2 separate regions of the Homo sapiens genome follow, and region 2 is linked to region 1. The links come from fine-mapping of genetic effects on gene expression. Tissue or cell type: neutrophils. Region 1 holds a variant in brackets; the other region holds the start of a gene. All regions are shown on one strand. Distances are from middle to middle.

Region 1 (8,105 bases):
AAAAAAAAAAGAAAGAAAAAACTTTTCTCCCTAAGCATTCAAGAGTTAGTGCCAGTCTGATGACCCATCACTTGAAATACTTAGGTATAGATTATCTGTAAACAAGGAACTTCTCCCACATAACCACAATACAGCCATTTAAATCAGGAAACTTAACCTTAATACGCTTGTATCGACTAATAGACCCTAATTCAGGGTTTTCCATTTTATCTAATACCTTCCTTTATAGCAAAAGGCCATTCAGAATTACACATTGCACTTAGTTGTCGTATCTCAGTTTGAAATAGTTCCTTGTCTTCCTTTGATTTTTATAACCTTGACTTTTTAAAATATTACAAGCCAATTTGTTTTGTTTGATGCTTCCTCATGATTATATTTAGGTCACTAATTTTGGCAGGGGTGTGACAGAACTAATGCTTTGTACCTCTCATTGTATTCCAACAGGTGGCATCATTTACATTTGTCCCATTATGATGATGTTAAATTTGACACTCGATTAAAGTGGTGTCTACCAGAGTCCTTTACTGTAAAGTTACTCATTTTCCCTTTGTAATTAATCTGTATTTAGTGGGAAGGACTTTGAAATAGGATACTTATGTTGCTCACAAGACCTCAGATTGATTGATTGATTGATTTGTGTCTATACCTACTCATAGTTTGCTATTTTATTCAATAGTTTATGAACTCTTACCATCATTATTTATTTTGATATGCACATTGTCTCAGGTACAGTTTGTGAGACGTCCTTTAAACTGATTCCTGTGTTATTTTGAAATGGTCCCATAATTCTTGAACATTTCCTTGTTTTCAGCACAAAATTTTTTTTCAAGTTCATTCTACGCTTTTCCAGGAATCCCTAGTTCTTTTTAGTGGACAGCGGTATTGACAATCCAGGATCTGGGTACTAGATATGCTTATTGCTTATCAGGATACCACTGCTTCCAGGCCCTCTGTTTGAAAAGAATTGTTTGTGTGCACACGCACACACACACACGCCAAAAAGAAAACTATTTCAAAAATTGAAGAGGGGATACTTCCAGACTCATTCTATGAGGCCAGCATTACCCTGATACCAAAATCAACAAAGACACACACAAAAAACCTATACATATACATATGTGTGTGTGTGTGTGTGTATGTATATATATGCACTTAAGTTTATATCTGTATTTATTCCTTTTTTTTTTTTTTTGAGACAGGGTCTCACTCTGTCTCCCAGGTTGGAGTGTAGTGGTATAATTACAGATCACTGCAGCCTCCACCTCCCCAGACTCAGGTGATCCTCCTCAGTTTTTATACTTTTAATAGAGAGGGGGTTTCACCCTGTTGCCTAGGCTGGTCTCAAACTCCTGGACTCAAGCGATCCACCTGCCTCGGCCTCCCAAAGTGCTAGGATTACAGGCATGAGCCACCACACCCGGCCTTATTTCTATATTTTTATATATCAAAAACCGTGAATCCACGTAGATACATCCACTTTCAGTCTGGTAGGGCCAGGCGTGGTGGCTCATACCTGTAATCCCAGCACTTTGGGAGGCCAAGGCGGGCAGATCACTGGAGCCTAGCAGTTCAAAACCAGTCTGGGCAACATGGTGAAACTCTATCTCTACAAAAAACACAAAAAGTTGCCAGACGTGGTGGCACTCACCTGTGGTCTCAGATACTCGGGAGGCTGAAGTAGGAGGATCACCTGTACCCTGGGGAGGTTGAGGCTGCAATAAGCTGTGATTGCACCACTGCATTCCAGCCTGGGCAATAGAACCAGACCTTGTCTCAAAAAATATCTATATAAGGATTGTTCTAATTTTCTCCTTTCCATATTTGTAACTAACTTCTACAGTGCAAGGCCTGGCTCCAGTTATAATTAACACATTTATTTAATCAGTTTTCCTATATGTGACCAATGTCCTTTTTCCACTGCTGCCTCCTACCCCACATGTAAGCCTTCCTCACACTGCTTGGGCTTTGACTCTCCTTGTTGAATTCCAATATGGATTCCCTCCTCTTCCTGCTAGGCTCTCTGACACATCATCACCCCAGGGCACCCCTTCACTGGAATGCCCTCTCACACTGCTTGACTTGAGGACTCTATGCCAGTGACCTCCTCTGCTTGGTAGACTGACATTCTGGGCTGCCTCTAAGATGCTCTCCTCACCACTGTCTGGTTCTGACACACTGCAGTCAACTGCTCTTCCATATGAATGCTTTTTTACTCTGCTTGGGACAACCTGCTCTGTTGTGATTTTTACTGGGCAATAGCTGACTGATTCAGCCATGTAAACTTGGACTGTTACCCATAAAGGTAGACTGAATAATTATTTTTATAATGGAAGACAGTAATCAAAAAATATTTGCAGCTGGGCGTGGTGGCTCAGGCCTGAAATCCCAGCACTTTGGGAGGCCGGGGGGGCGGGGGGGCGGATCACTTGAGGTCGGAAGTTCAAGACCAACCTGGCCAACATGGTGAAACCCCATCTCCACAAAAAATACAAAAATTAGCTGAGTGTGGTGGCCCACTCCTGTAATCCCAGCTACTTGGGAGGCTGAAGCAGGAGAATGGCTTGAACCCAGGAGGTGGAGGTTGCAGTGAGCTGAAATCACACCACTGCACTCCAGCCTGGGTGACAGAGTGAGACTCCATCTCAAAAAAAAAAAAAAAGTATTTGCTATGGCTGCACACATAAACATGGATGAGTCCCAAAAACATAATGTAGAGATAAAGCTATAGAACACATACACTATGATTCCATTCATGTCAGGTTTAAAAAAGTAAAACTGTCCTTAAAAGCTACTAAGCCATGACTACTCTTCTCCTACCCACCAGCTTGGATATTTTTCCTCACCCCACTTGGCCTCTGACATCCTACACTAGACAGCTCTTATATGGGCCACCACAACTCCCAGCATTTCTGAAATAGATGCCTCCCATGTTCTGTCCTACTAATGGCTTGGTGGCTTTTGGACTGAATCATTAAAAAATTGTGTTTTTCTTCCGTTTTTTCTGCTTATTTTATTAGTTACCAAGAAAGTTGTGCTAAAATCTCCAACTATGATTATGGATTTGTCTATTTCTTATTTACTTCTGTCAATGTTTGCTTTATATATTTTAAAGTTATATAATTGGGTCCAGCAGAGATGAAATTGTGTTTTTCTGATTAATTGACTTTGTTGGGGAGAAAAGATTTTCTTCGCCCATTGCCTAGATTCATGGCTGAGACCCCTTTAACAAAAGACAGATTAACAAAAGAAATGCATGTGATTTTATATTTTATTTTATACACACACACACACACACACACACATATACATATATATATATTATATTTTTTTCTGTCTTTTTTGTTTTGTTTTGTTTTTGAGATGGAGTCTCTCTCTGTTGCCTAGGCTGGAGTGCAGTGGTGTGATCTCGGCTCACTGCAACTTCTGCCTCCCAGGTTCAAGCAATTCTCCCTGCCCCAGACTCCTGAGTAACTGGGATCACAGGCGCCTATCACCACACCTGGCTAATTTTTTTTGTATTTTTAGTAGAGAAAGGGTTTGCCATGTTGGCCAGTCTGGTCTCGAACTGCTGATCTCAGGTGGTCCGCTCACCTTGGCCTCCCAAAGTGCTGGGATTACAGGCGTGAGCCACAGTGCCCGGCCTTTTTTGTTTTTTGTTTGTTTGTTTTGTTTTGTTTTTTTGAGACAGTCTCAACTCTGTTGCCTAGGCTGGAGTGCAGTGGCATGATCTTGGCTCATTGAAACCTCTGCCTCCTGGGTTCAAGCAATTCTCGTCCCTCAGCCTCCCAAGTAGCTGGGATTATAGGCACCTGCCACCACGCCTGGCTAATTTTTGGGGTTTTTTGTTTTGTTTTGTTTTTTGAGATGGAGTCTTGCTCTGTCGCCAGGCTGGAATGCAGTGGCGCAATCTCAGCTCACTGCAACCTCCGCCTCCCTGGTTCATGCGATTCTCCTGCCTCAGCCTCCCGAGTAGCTGGGACTACAGGTGTGTGCCACCATGCCCAGCTAATTTTTGTATTTTTAGTAGAGATGGGGTTTCACCATGTTGGCCAGGCTGGTCTTGATCTCCTGACCTCATGATCCTCCTGCCTCGGCCTCCCAAAGTGCTGGGATTACAGGCATGAGCCACCGCGCCCAGCCTAATTTTGGTATTTTTAGTAGAGACAGGGTTTCGCCATGTTGGCCAGGCTGGTCTTGAACTCCTGGCCTAAGTTTGATGAGGAAGTGGATAGTTTGTGGAGAAGTATGATTGGAGGGCAAAAGGGGTATGATCTAATGGTAATAAATTAAGGGGAACTTAGCTTAGCCTGTTCGTTCAGATTCTTCGTGGCATCTCTGCATCTTCAAGGATAAGGTTGTTCCTTTCCTCTGGGTATACGAACAATACCTCGGAAAGGAAGGTTTTATGACCTACTTCAGAGGAAGGACAGATAATTTCTTTTTTGGTCTGCTTTGAGGGGAGAAGGGCAAGGGGAGAATGAGACTGATCTACCTGTTTCTGCTGTTTCCTCAAATGCCAAGGTGCCATATTTTAGGGTAGCATATCTTGAACCCTGTCAACCTTTTTAGCACTGTCACATGTCTCTCTCAATCCTTGGTAATGCTTTTTGTGTTAAATCTACTCTGCCTGATATTAATATGGTCATAACAGCTTCCTTCTAATTAGTATTTGCCTGGTATATTTTTCTACTTACTTTTAATTTCA[A/G]CGTATCTGTATATATTTATCTGTGTGTGTATTTAAAACTATCTCTTGTAAATAGTTGAGTTTTGTTTTTAAATCTAGGCTAACAGTATTAGTTTCTGGTTTTGTGGGGTTTTTTCCTCCTGTTTTACTCTGCAAGGAGGTTTCTGTTTTGTGGATTTCTTTAGCTACCATCTACCTGGTGCTTTCTATGTGTTTGGCTCTCTTGAAGGCATTTCACTTTTATTTCTGTCAAAACCATTCTAGACAGCTGGAATCACACAACTGATTATCATAATAATAGAAGAAGCACAAGTTTGAAATTGTGTCCTGGAATGTTCTTTTGTGACCTAAATTCCTTCCAAATGAAGAGGAGAGCAAACTAAAGATGTAGAAATGGGAATGGGGATTTGTTATTCTGGCCCAAGCTTATTTGTTTATCTTCAGGGAAATAAATTTTAATCTTGACTTGTTTATCTAGGTGAATAACAATGAAACACGTAGCTTTTTTTCCCCCTAAATGACTGAAGCGTTTAAAAATTTTTGGCCAACAGCATTTATTTAGTAATGATTAATCAGGCTTTTTCTTTTCTGTTTTAAATATATAATATATTTTGGTAGAGACAGGGTCTCACCTGCTGGGATTATAGGCTTGAGCCACTGCCCCTGGCCAACAATTTCACTCTGTTACTCTCTTCCTTTTTGCTATTTTTGTCAACAAATATGTTACTTCTACGAACATTTTAACAACCCTCAAAATGCTATTACTTGTAAACAATATTCACTTATATATCATTTTACTTTTTCTGTTTTTTACCCAGTTTGATGTTTTAGCCTGAACAATTATGCTTAGTATCTCTTAAATTTTTTTAATTTTTTAATTTTTTTTTTTTTTCAAGACAGAGTCTTGCTCTGTCACCTGGTTGGAGCGCAGCGGAGTGATCTCAGCACACTGCGACCTCTGCCTCCCTGGTTCAAGCAATTCTCCTGTCTCAGCTTCCCAAGTAGCTGGCATTACAGGCATGCGCTACCACACCCAGCTAATTTTTGTATTTTTTTGGTAGAGACAGGGTTTCACCATGTTGGCCAGGCTGGTCTCCAACTCCTGACCTTGTGGTCCGCCTCGGCTTCCCAAAGTGCTGGGATTACAGGCGTGAGTCACCGAGCCCTGCCTTTAGTATCTCTTTAATTGCTTATCTACTAATGATGAATTCTCTTAGCTTTGATTTGAACACATCTTCATTTTTAAAGACCATTTTCACTAGGCTAGAACTGTCAGGTTTTTCTAGCACATCAGCTCTTAAGAATGCCCATATGTTGTCTTCCAGCTTCCACTCTCCTACTCAAAAATCAGCTGTCAGCCTTTTTCTTGCTCTTTTGAAAGATATTAAGTCTTTTTTCCTCTCAGTTTAAAATTTTTCTCTTTGTTCTTAGATTTTAATAGCTTGAATATGATGTGCCTAGGTGTTAGTTATCTTTGCATTATATTGCTTAGAATTTGCTGAGTTTCTTGGATCCATAGTTAAGGTTTTTTGTCAGTTTGGGGAGTTTCTTGGCCAGTATTGATGGAAATGTTCTCGTATTTTATTCTCTTTTGTCTTTGGCATTTGTGGCTTTATTTACATGTATGTTAGATGTTTTCAGTGTATCTTATATTCTTTTCTAATTTTTTTCTTCTTTTTCCTTCTGATTCAGTCTGCATATTTTCTATTTGACCTGTCTTCGAGTTCAGTAATCTGTTGTATTGGTCTGGTCTGTTAAATACATGTGTTGGAATTCTTACTTTCAATTCTACTGTCACTTGTAGACTTTTCATTTGAGTCTGTTATTTTTCAGGTGTCTGGTGAAATTCCTCATCTTTTTATTTTATCTGTTGCTTCTTCTGGATTTTAGCATACCTTATAATTCATCTGGTCATTAGACCTTGTTTATGGAAACATTGTAGACGTTTCAGATGACATCATCTTCCTCCAAAGATACCTATGCTTCTATCAGACAGATTCCTAATGGATTATGTTGATTTTATTAAGAGTTAGTTGGATTGACTGTAGACTTTACTGGGGCTGGTTGGTTATCTGTTTTGCTTTTAGAGCATGGACTTGAACCTTAGGGTCTGACCCTTAGAAGTGGTGAAAACCTGGGTGTTTACCAAGACTCCTCCACATTGGCAGAGCTTAAACTCTAGAGTCTGTGTGCCCAGCATTTTGGAGCTGCTAGAATCTCTCCTCAGTCGCTGTTTTCTGTTGGGTTCTTTGAATTCTCATTCTACTAATAGCTGAGGAGTTAGCCAATAACTTAAGAATTTGTTACGGTTTTCTGGTCACGTTTCTTTATGGGTCCCTCTGTTTCAGGATTTTGGCTTATAAATCCCAGCTTCTTGTCTCTCCTTGGTGTAGTGAAATGGCTTTTTTTTTTCCCTCTAATTCACTGCTACAAATTGGAAAGTGCCCTCAGTGAAAAAACCAGTGTAAATGTGGAGCTCACCTTGTGCATTTCCTTCCTACAGGGCTCTCAGATGATTTACATTGGTTGGTCTTCAGTGCTTTCACATAGCGCTTTTATGTTTAGACGCTCCTTGACTTATGATGTAATGTCCCAATAAGCCCATCCACGTTGAAAATGCATTTACCCAGCACTTTGGGAGGCTGAGGCGGGCGGATCACGAGGTCAGGAGATCGAGACCATCCTGGCTAACATGGTGAAACCCCGGATCTACTAAAAATACAAAAAAAATTAGCCAGGCGTGGTAGCGGGCGTCTGTAGTCCCAGCTACTCGGGAGGCTGAGGCAGGAGAATGGTGTGAACCCAGGGGGCGGAGCTTGCAGTGAGCCAAGATCACGCCACTGCACTCCAGCCTGGGCGACAGAGCAAGACTCTGTCTCAAAAAAAAAAAAGAAAAGAAAAAAAAAAGAAAATGCATTTAATACCCTGATGAACCCATTGTAAAGTTGAAAAATAGTTACGTCAAAGCATTTTAAGTCTGTATATTGTCCAGCTTTTATAGCAATATTTTTAGGAGCACTACTTCAATAAAAGCCATTTCATCAATGATCAAAACAAAATCCTCTTATTGTCTTTTTATTTTTTATTTATTTGTTTTTTTGAGATGAATTCTTGTTCTGTCACCCAATTTGGAGTGCAGTGGCTCAATCTCGGCTCACTGCAACCTGCACCACCTCCCAGGTTCGAGCAATTCTCCTGCCTCAGCCTTCCAAGTAGCTGGGATTACAGGTGTGCGTCACCACGCCTGGCTAATTTTTTTTTTTTTTTTTTTGAGTCAGAGTCTTGCTCTGTCGCCAAGGCTGGAGTGCAGTGGCATGATCTCGGCTCACTGCAACCTCTGTTTCCTGGGTTCAAGTGATTCTCCTGCCTCAGCCTCCCGAGTAGCTGGGACTACAGGCGCGTGCCACCATGCTTGGCTAAT
Region 2 (8,105 bases), 94 kb after region 1:
GGTCTCACCTTGATACTGTTTTTTTTTTTTTTTTGAGACGGAGTCTCACTCTGTCACCCAGGCTGGAGTGCAGTGGCGCAATCTTGGCTCACTGCAAGCTCTGCCCCACCCCCCCTGCGTTCATGCCATTCTCTTGCCTCAGCTTCCTGAGTAGCTGGGACTACAGGTGCCCACCACCACGCCCAGCTAATTTTTTGTATTTTTAGTAGAGATGAAGTTTCACCGTGTTAGCCAGGATGGTCTCGATCTCCTGACCTCATGATCCACCCACCTCAGCCGCCCAAAGTGCTGGGATTACAGGCGTGAGCCACCACGCCCAGCCTACTCTTTCTTTTTCTTTGAGACAGAGTCTCACTCTACTGCCCAGGCTGGAGTGCAGTGGCATGATCATGGCTCACTGCAGCCTTGACCTTCCTGGGCTCAGGTGATCCTCCCAACTCAGCCTCCTGAGTAACTGAGACAACAGGCATGCACCATCATGCCTGGTTAATTTTTGTATTTTTTGTAGAAACAGGGTTTCGCCATGTTGCCCAGGCTGATCTTGAACTCCTGGGCTCGTGATCTGTCTTCCAAAGTGCTACGATTATAGGTGTGAGCCACCTTGCCTGGCTGATACTCTTTCTTAGGCCACCTTGGCATGCCTTATGTCCTTCACAAGTCTACCCACCCTTCAAAGCCTTCCAAAAAGCCTTCTGACTACCCTTGTCCACACCATCTTTACTCATCTCCAGCTTCTATCATAGACAGGGCTATCCTTCTAAACTCTATGGTCATCTGATCTTATGCATATGTTGCCTTCTCAGTTACACTGCACTGTCTAAAGGCAAGGACCAAGTCTTCTTAGATTCCCTTATGTGAGTTCTTGACTGGCCTCTGTGGGATTGAGGAGGAATAAATGAGTCAATTGGTCCCTTCTGTTGCACTGGGACCCCAGAGAGAAGCTCAGTATGATTCTAAGAAGCTGGGACTTCTGCTGGGCGTCCGGTGTTAACATGTACATAGGCCTCCTATCTAGTGTTATCCAGACCCTCTATCTGCTAACCATGATTCTCAGCCTCAACATTAAACCCTTCTAACATGGTTTGAGGACCTGACAATACAGGTGATACAGGAAGGCCTGGGAGTGCCCTGGGGGATTGCTGGGATTCAAGTTGGCTGATTTATGAAGGTGTTGAGCCACATTGTGTGGAGTGAGCATGGAGGCCTCCTCACCCACAAGATGTAACAGCTGGAAGGCGGTGAGCCAGGCCTCTGGGATGGCTGCAGCCTGGGTCAGGGTCAATCCCTCTGGGATAGGCATGAGGAGCCCTTCGGGGACAGTGACGTACTGAGCCTGGCCCCCACCGGGGAGCAGAGCCATGGCTGTGTCCCCGATCTTCCAGTGTCCCTGGCAGCCAGGCCCCAGCTCTGCCACATGTCCAGATGCCTCAAGTCCCAAAATGTTGCTGGCTCCTGGAGGTGGGTCATACTGGCCTTGTCTCTGCAGAGAAAGAAGTGCACTAAGTGGTGAGCATGATCAGAAATCTGTATGTCACTACCCCTGGCCCCCCTTCCAAGATCCCCTCTTTTTTTTTTCAAAAATAAATTTCAGAATGAAGTCAGGTTTTTGTAAGTAAGGAGAAGAAAAAGGAGAGGCCATTAGTTTTATGCAAATAAACTGGAGGTCACATGATCAGTGGATGTTATAACTGGTAGAGTCCTTAGCTATTTACCTCATCTGAACCCCTTGCTTTACAGATGGAGAAACTGAGTCCCAGACGGGAAATAATAGTAGTGGGATTAGGAACCTTGACGATGGTTCCCATGCATCAAGCGCTAGGCTCTGTGCTCACTCACCCCAGTCCTCAGAAGCTGTAGAGCAGAGGGACTTAACCAGGAGTGTGTGGCAGAACCACCTGAGGAGTATTTCAAAGTACACGTGCCTGGGCCCCCATCACGTTTCTTTTGTGCCCCGGGGGATTCTGATGCACATTTCTGAATGACCCCAACCAATGCAGCTGGCCCAGGTCAGTAAATCAGCATCAGACAGAAGAAAATTCTTAAGAGTACTGCCCGCTGTCAGCTCCGGGACTCTCAGAGTGGAAAGAGTTAAGAGGTCTTTGGAGCCACAAAGACCTCAGCTTGAATCCCAGCTCTTCTGATTGCTAGTGTCACGGCCTTGGGCGTACTGCTTAACCTCACTGAACTTCAGTTTCCTTATCTGTAGAATTAAGATGGCGAACAGGGTAGCCTGGGGAGTAAGTGTGCCCACACCCCACAACAATGTTAGTTCCGCCCTCATCTGGAGGCCTGAGTGGCTATGGATTAGCTCGGGGTGGATTCTGCTTTACAAGTACTCCCCCTTGTTTTGCATGAACAAAGAGGGCGCCCTGGGTTTAGGTCTGGGAAGCCCCAGCGCAGCTGCCTGCTGGGTGTGGAGCGGTGCACGCCTTCACGTCTGGTCAATGTCCACTGAGTGCTGTTGAGAGGGAGGCTCTGGAGTCCCGCCCGCCCCGGCGCGGCTGAGCCCTGGGTACCTGCATTAAGTCCGCCCGGTTCAGGGCGCTGGCCGCCACCTTCAGGAGGACTTCACCCTCCCCCGGGCTCGGCTTGGCCACCTCCTTCACGTAGAGGTTTTCCGGTCCTCCCGGCTTGTCAAAGTGCACGGCTAACATATTGTCTGAGGACACAGGGCAGGGCAGGGCAGGACAGGACAGGGCAGGGCAGGGCAGGACAGGACAGGGCAGGGCAGGACAGGACAGGGCAGGGGCCGCTGTATCCTCGCGGAGCAGCCCAGCCTCAGGCTGGCACCGCAGCGCCCCCTGCCGGCCAGCGCCTCGCTGCCCTGGTCTGCCGCGGACCCGGCCTCCGCCCCGAGCTCCTGCCTGGGAAGTCCTCGGCCGCCTCCAGACCGATCCCACCCGGAACACAGATGGGAACGGCGGGAAGTGGGATGGCGGTACAGGGCTGGATGCGGCAGAGCAGGACAACGCCGAAGAGGATCAGGCAAATCACACTCCCTCTGAGTTGGAAGCCCCCAGCCCGACCCGGGTCCCCGGCGCCCGTATGAGTTACTTACTCCTGGCCCGGCTCCCCTCCCATGCACCAGGCGGCGCCGAGTGGTTCTGGCTCCTGCGGGTCCCGGTGACAAAGCCCGAGCCCCAGAGCCCCAGGACTGCCTCTGCCTCCACCGGAATGGACGGCTGGACCTGGGGTAGCCGGAGGGGTGGGGCTAAGCAGAACCACCCTCCCCCTCTTTCCTTTCCTCCTTCCCCCTTTAAAACGCAAAGTTAGAAGCAAGCAAATCAGATTTTCTTGTCCTTTTAGCCTCTGGAAAAGAGTCTTTCTCTCAGCTTGACAGAAAGTGCGATTCTAGCTCTCACTTCAAGGAGAGGAAACTTCCTTCTCTCTAGGGAACGAGACCCAACCTCTTGGCGGGCGGATTGGTCCATTTTCCAGGCATGGCCAGGCTTTTGGCACATTTATGTAACAGGCTGGCATCCCGCCCATCTTGAGCATGGGTGGGCAAGCTGGGTGCTGCTAAGAGAAGAGAAAGGAGCCGTTGGGAGTGGGGGTGGGGAAGGAAGGCAAAACGCAGTCCTGGGATCCTTATCACTCGCCTCCTCCTGACAGTCCTGGGGGAGAGGTTCAGCCCCAGGAGAAGGATGCTGGCGATTGGGTAAAAGCTGTATCCGTAAGCTACATGAAGGTTTCTCAATCTCGGCGCTATTGACATTTTGGACTAGCTAGTTCGTTATTGTAGGAGATCGTCCTGTGCATCGTAGGATGTTTAGCAGCATCCCTGGCCTCCCCCCACTACATATCCGTAGCACTCCTTGTAAATTCCTGTTTTAGTAAGAACCTCCCATCCTTGACATCTGATCACCCTCAATATCTCATCCTCCACCATCCCCCAAGTGATATCCGACCACCCTGGCCTGTCTTCAGTGAGAATCCTGTTAGGTCAGTTTAGATAGAATCCCCCTTACCCCTGATGCCTCTTACCAATTTTCCATCCACTGACCCCCTACACTGCTCCTTGGCTATACATTCCCACTTGTCCGTGATGCATTCAGAGTTGATCCCAACCTGTCTCCTCCACTGCAAGAACTCATTGCAGTGGTCCCTAAACCTGTAGCGATGGTGCTAAATAAAGTCTTCCTTAATGTGCTTTAACAAGTATCATTGAATAATTATTTCTTTAACACAACAGAGCAAAAGCCTATAGAGATGGAAATAATAAAATGATGGGACTTAAGGAAAAATTCAGGAGACCCTGCTATGAGAATAACAGGAATTTTAGGCCGGGCGCGGTGGCTCACGCCTGTAATCCCAGAACTTTGGGAGGCCAAGGCGGGCGGATCACGAGGTCAGGAGATCGAGACCATCCTGGCTAACACGGTGAAACCCCGTCTCTACTAAAAATACAAAAAATTAGCCGGGCGTGGTGGCGGGCGCCTGTAGTCCCAGCTATTCGGGAGGCTGAGGCAGGAGAATGGCGTGAACCCGGGAGGGGGAGCTTGCAGTGAGCCGAGATCGCACCACTGCACTCCAGCCTGGACGACAGAGTGAGACTCCGTCTCAAAAAAAAAAAAAAAAAAGGAATTTTAGAAGGAGGAAGAGGAATGGATGAAGAAGATTCAATAGTTAACCAAATAAAAGAATACAGTTTTCCTAAATTCTACCAGATTATACGGATTGAAAACATTCACTAAAGGATGGATTCATAAGAACAAAAATGCATGCCTATATTTTATAAAATTTCAGGTTCTAACAAGTGTGGAAAGAATAAGTTACTCACAATTGGTTAAAAAAAATGGCTTCCTTCTCTCCCTCCCTCCCTCCTTCCTTCCTTCCCTCCTTCCCCACCCCCTCTTTCTCTCTCTCTCTTTTTTGTAGTGTAGGGGTCTCATTATGTTGCCCAGGCTGGTCTCAAACTCCTGGACTCAAGCAATCCTCCTGCCTCAGCCTCCCAAAGTGCTAGGATTACAAGTATGAGCCACTGTGCCCAGCAAGTTTCTATCTGCAATCTGGAAGCTAGAAGAGAGTAGACTAGCGTCTATTGACTAGAAGAAAAGCACTGTAACTCAATATACCCCATTAAGATATAATTCACTTGTTAGGGCAAAAAACATGTCTGAGGATGTATAAGGATTCAGAGACACATCATCCGGATACACATCTGTCCAAAATCGAGGAAAGGTTTGAACCAAATAAATATCCTAGAACAGAGACAGATGGAAAGGAAATAGTTGTAAATAACAAACTTTGCAAAAATCGACACTAAAACTGATTGGATTAAGAAAATGGAATGGATTAAGATAGATGAGGAATGTGTAATGTAAGTGCTAAATAAGAACTTTTAAGATGCAAGGAGTAACTTTAAAAAAAATCTAATAATACCAACCACTAAGTATACTAAAGTATCCCAGTAAAACTAGTAGTTGAAAGTGCCTAAGATTTTATCTTAGTGAGCCCTTGGTCGATGTAATCTTGCAGTGTGTAATAAGAAATATATATTTTTGGTCTTTGTCCTGGGTTCCTACAATAGCACTCCTAAAACCTTTGTTATTTGCTGAATAAACATCTCTTTCTTTCTTTTGTTTTTAACTAGATATACGGTCTTGCTACGTTGCCCAGGCTGATCATGAACTCCTGGACTCAAGCAATTCTCCCACCTCAGCCTGTAAAGTACTGGAATTATAGGCATGAGCCACTCTGCCTGGCCAATAAGTATCTTTTATTATATTTTGTTCTCCTGCAGAGCTCCTAAAACCCTTGGAATTTCGTATGTGATAGAAGTGACTTTTTATATTAATAACAAACCCTTATAAGCACACTCGAGTTTATGCTAATATGACTTAGGGTGGGGGCCCTAGATAGCTTCAGGATGAGCTGGTCACCAGAAAGACCCTGGGAAGGGGAAGCAGGGACTGGAGATTACACGCTATAAGAATTCTTTTTTGTTGTTGTTGTTGAAACTGAGTCTCACTCTGTTGCCCAGGCTGGAGTGCAGTGGCCTGACCTCAGTTCACTGCAACCTCCACCTCCTAGGTTCAAGCGATTCTCCTGCCTCAGCCTCCCGAGTAGCTGGGACTACAGGTGTGAGCCACCACACCAGGGTAATTTTTTTTTTTTTTTTTTTTTTGAGACAGAGTCTCACTCTGTCACCCAGGCGATCTCGGCTCCCTGCAATCCTCTCAAGTAGCTGGGACTATAGATGCACGCTGCCACGCCCAGCTAATTTTTTGTATTTTAGTAGAGACAGGGTTTCACCAGCCCAGGGTTTTGCAACAGTCCAGGCTGGTCGCAAACTCCTGAGCTTAGGCAATCCACCTGCCTCGGCCTTCCAAAGTGCTGGGATTACAGGCGTGAGCCACTGGGTCCGGCCCATTTTTGTGGTTTTAGTAGAAATGGGATTTCTCCATGTTGGCCAGGCTGGTCTTGAACTCCTTACCTCAGGTTATCCATTTGCCTAGGCCTCCAAAAGTGCTGGGATTAGAGGTGTGAGCCACTGCGCCTGGCCCTAAAAACTCTTGAACAAAGAAATGTGGTGAGCTTCCCAGCTGGTGAACACATCCACCATGGGAAGATGGTGTGGTGTACCCCAACTCCATGGGGACAGAGACTCCTGCACTTGGGATCCTTCTGGACCTCATTCTACATACCTCTTCACCTGGCTGTTCATCCCTTTATTATATATATATATCTTTTTTTGAGGCAGAGTCTGGCTCTGTCGCCTAGGCTGGAATGCAGTGGGGTGATCTCGGCTCACTGCAATCTCTGTCTCCTGGGTTTACGTGATTCTCCTGCCTCAGCCTCCCAAGTAGCTGGGATTACAGGCATGCACCACCAAGCCCGGCTAATTTTTGCATATTTAGTAGAGACAGGGTTTCGCCATGTTGGCCAGGCTGGTCTTGAACTTTTGGGCTCAAGAGATCCACCTGCTTCGGCCTCCCAAAGTGTTGCGATTACAGGCGTGAGCCACCGCGCCCGGCCTATAATATTCTTTATCATAAACTAGTAAACGTAAGTGTTTCCCTGAGTTTTATGAAGGATTCTAGCAAATTATCAAATCCAAGGAGGGAGTCATGAGAATCCCTGATTTATACAGCCAGTTGGTCAGAAGTGTAGGAGGCTTGGATTTGCAGTTGGCATCTTTAATGGGGGCAACCTTGCGGGACTGAGCCCTTAATCTGTGGGATCTGACACTAACTCCAGGTAGAGAGTGTCAGAATTGAATTGTGGAACACCCAGCCTATGTCAGAGAATTGATTGATGTGGGAATAAAACCTGCATATCTAGTGTCAGAAACGAAGTGTTCTGTGTGAGTGTAGAAACAGTGTGGTTTCCCAGATATGGGGAAATAGATTATATTTAGTAGAAATGTATCCAATTATGAAAGTTGAGAAATGGGCTGGGTGCTGTGGCTCATACCTATAATCCCAGCACTTTGGGAGGCTGAGAGGGGTGGATCACTTGAGGTCAGGAGTTCAAGGCCAGCCTGGCCAGCATGATGAAACCCCATCTCTACTAAAAATGCAAAAATTAGCTGGGTGTGGTGGTGGTTGCCTGTAGTCCCAGCTTGTTCTTTATAAAAACCAGTAACATGAATGAAATGTATTGTGAGTTACAGCTGGGAAACAAGAAATAGCCAAGGTCTGAAAGACTGGGAATGAGAAAGGAGATACAACCACAGATATAGGAGTGATTAAAACAAAAATAAATTAAATTATGTGAAATTCTACAGCAACAAGTAGTAAAATCTAGAAAAAAAAAGGAAGATTTTTTTAGCAAAATTACTCCATTCTACCCAATGGGTAGAGTATTTTCGCCTCATTCTGTTGATGTTGGGTTTGGCCCTGTCTCTTACTTTGGTCAATGATGAGTGAGAAAGGCATGGTCAGTTTCCATCAGTCCCCTTACCTTCCTGCCACCCACAGATAGCCTCTATTTCAGCTTGTCCCTGAGTGAGAAATACTCAGGGTAGCCCTGAATCCAACCTATTGTCTTGGGACCAGCCTAGCAGAGTCACAACCGAGGAAGAAATAAACATTTGTTTTTGTAAGCTGTTGTTGTTGTAAGCTGTTAAGATTTGGGGATAGTTTATTTTTGCAGCAAAGGCT

Evidence for each region. PIP is the estimated chance that this variant, and not a neighbour inherited with it, causes the effect.
Region 2: it holds the start of TP53I3, and the variant in region 1 is fine-mapped to the expression of TP53I3 in neutrophils (BLUEPRINT, PIP 0.95).

Annotation. Positions count from the first base shown.
Region 1 is chr2:23,988,130-23,996,234 of GRCh38, forward strand. The region is part of intron 6 of UBXN2A (UBX domain protein 2A); the gene reads left to right. Among named protein-coding and RNA genes, the nearest start is that of MFSD2B, 18 kb to the right of the region's middle. The variant A/G (reference allele first, on the strand shown) is at 4,706.
Region 2 is chr2:24,081,673-24,089,777 of GRCh38, forward strand. TP53I3 (tumor protein p53 inducible protein 3) reads right to left here and starts at 3,162. Exons shown (of 5, transcript NM_004881.5): 1 at 2,517-3,162; 2 at 1,213-1,480. The coding sequence starts at 2,654. It also overlaps a transcript of FAM228B not described here. RefSeq lists enhancers at 874-1,804, 2,400-2,499, 2,650-2,699, 3,447-3,947 and a silencer at 2,710-2,889.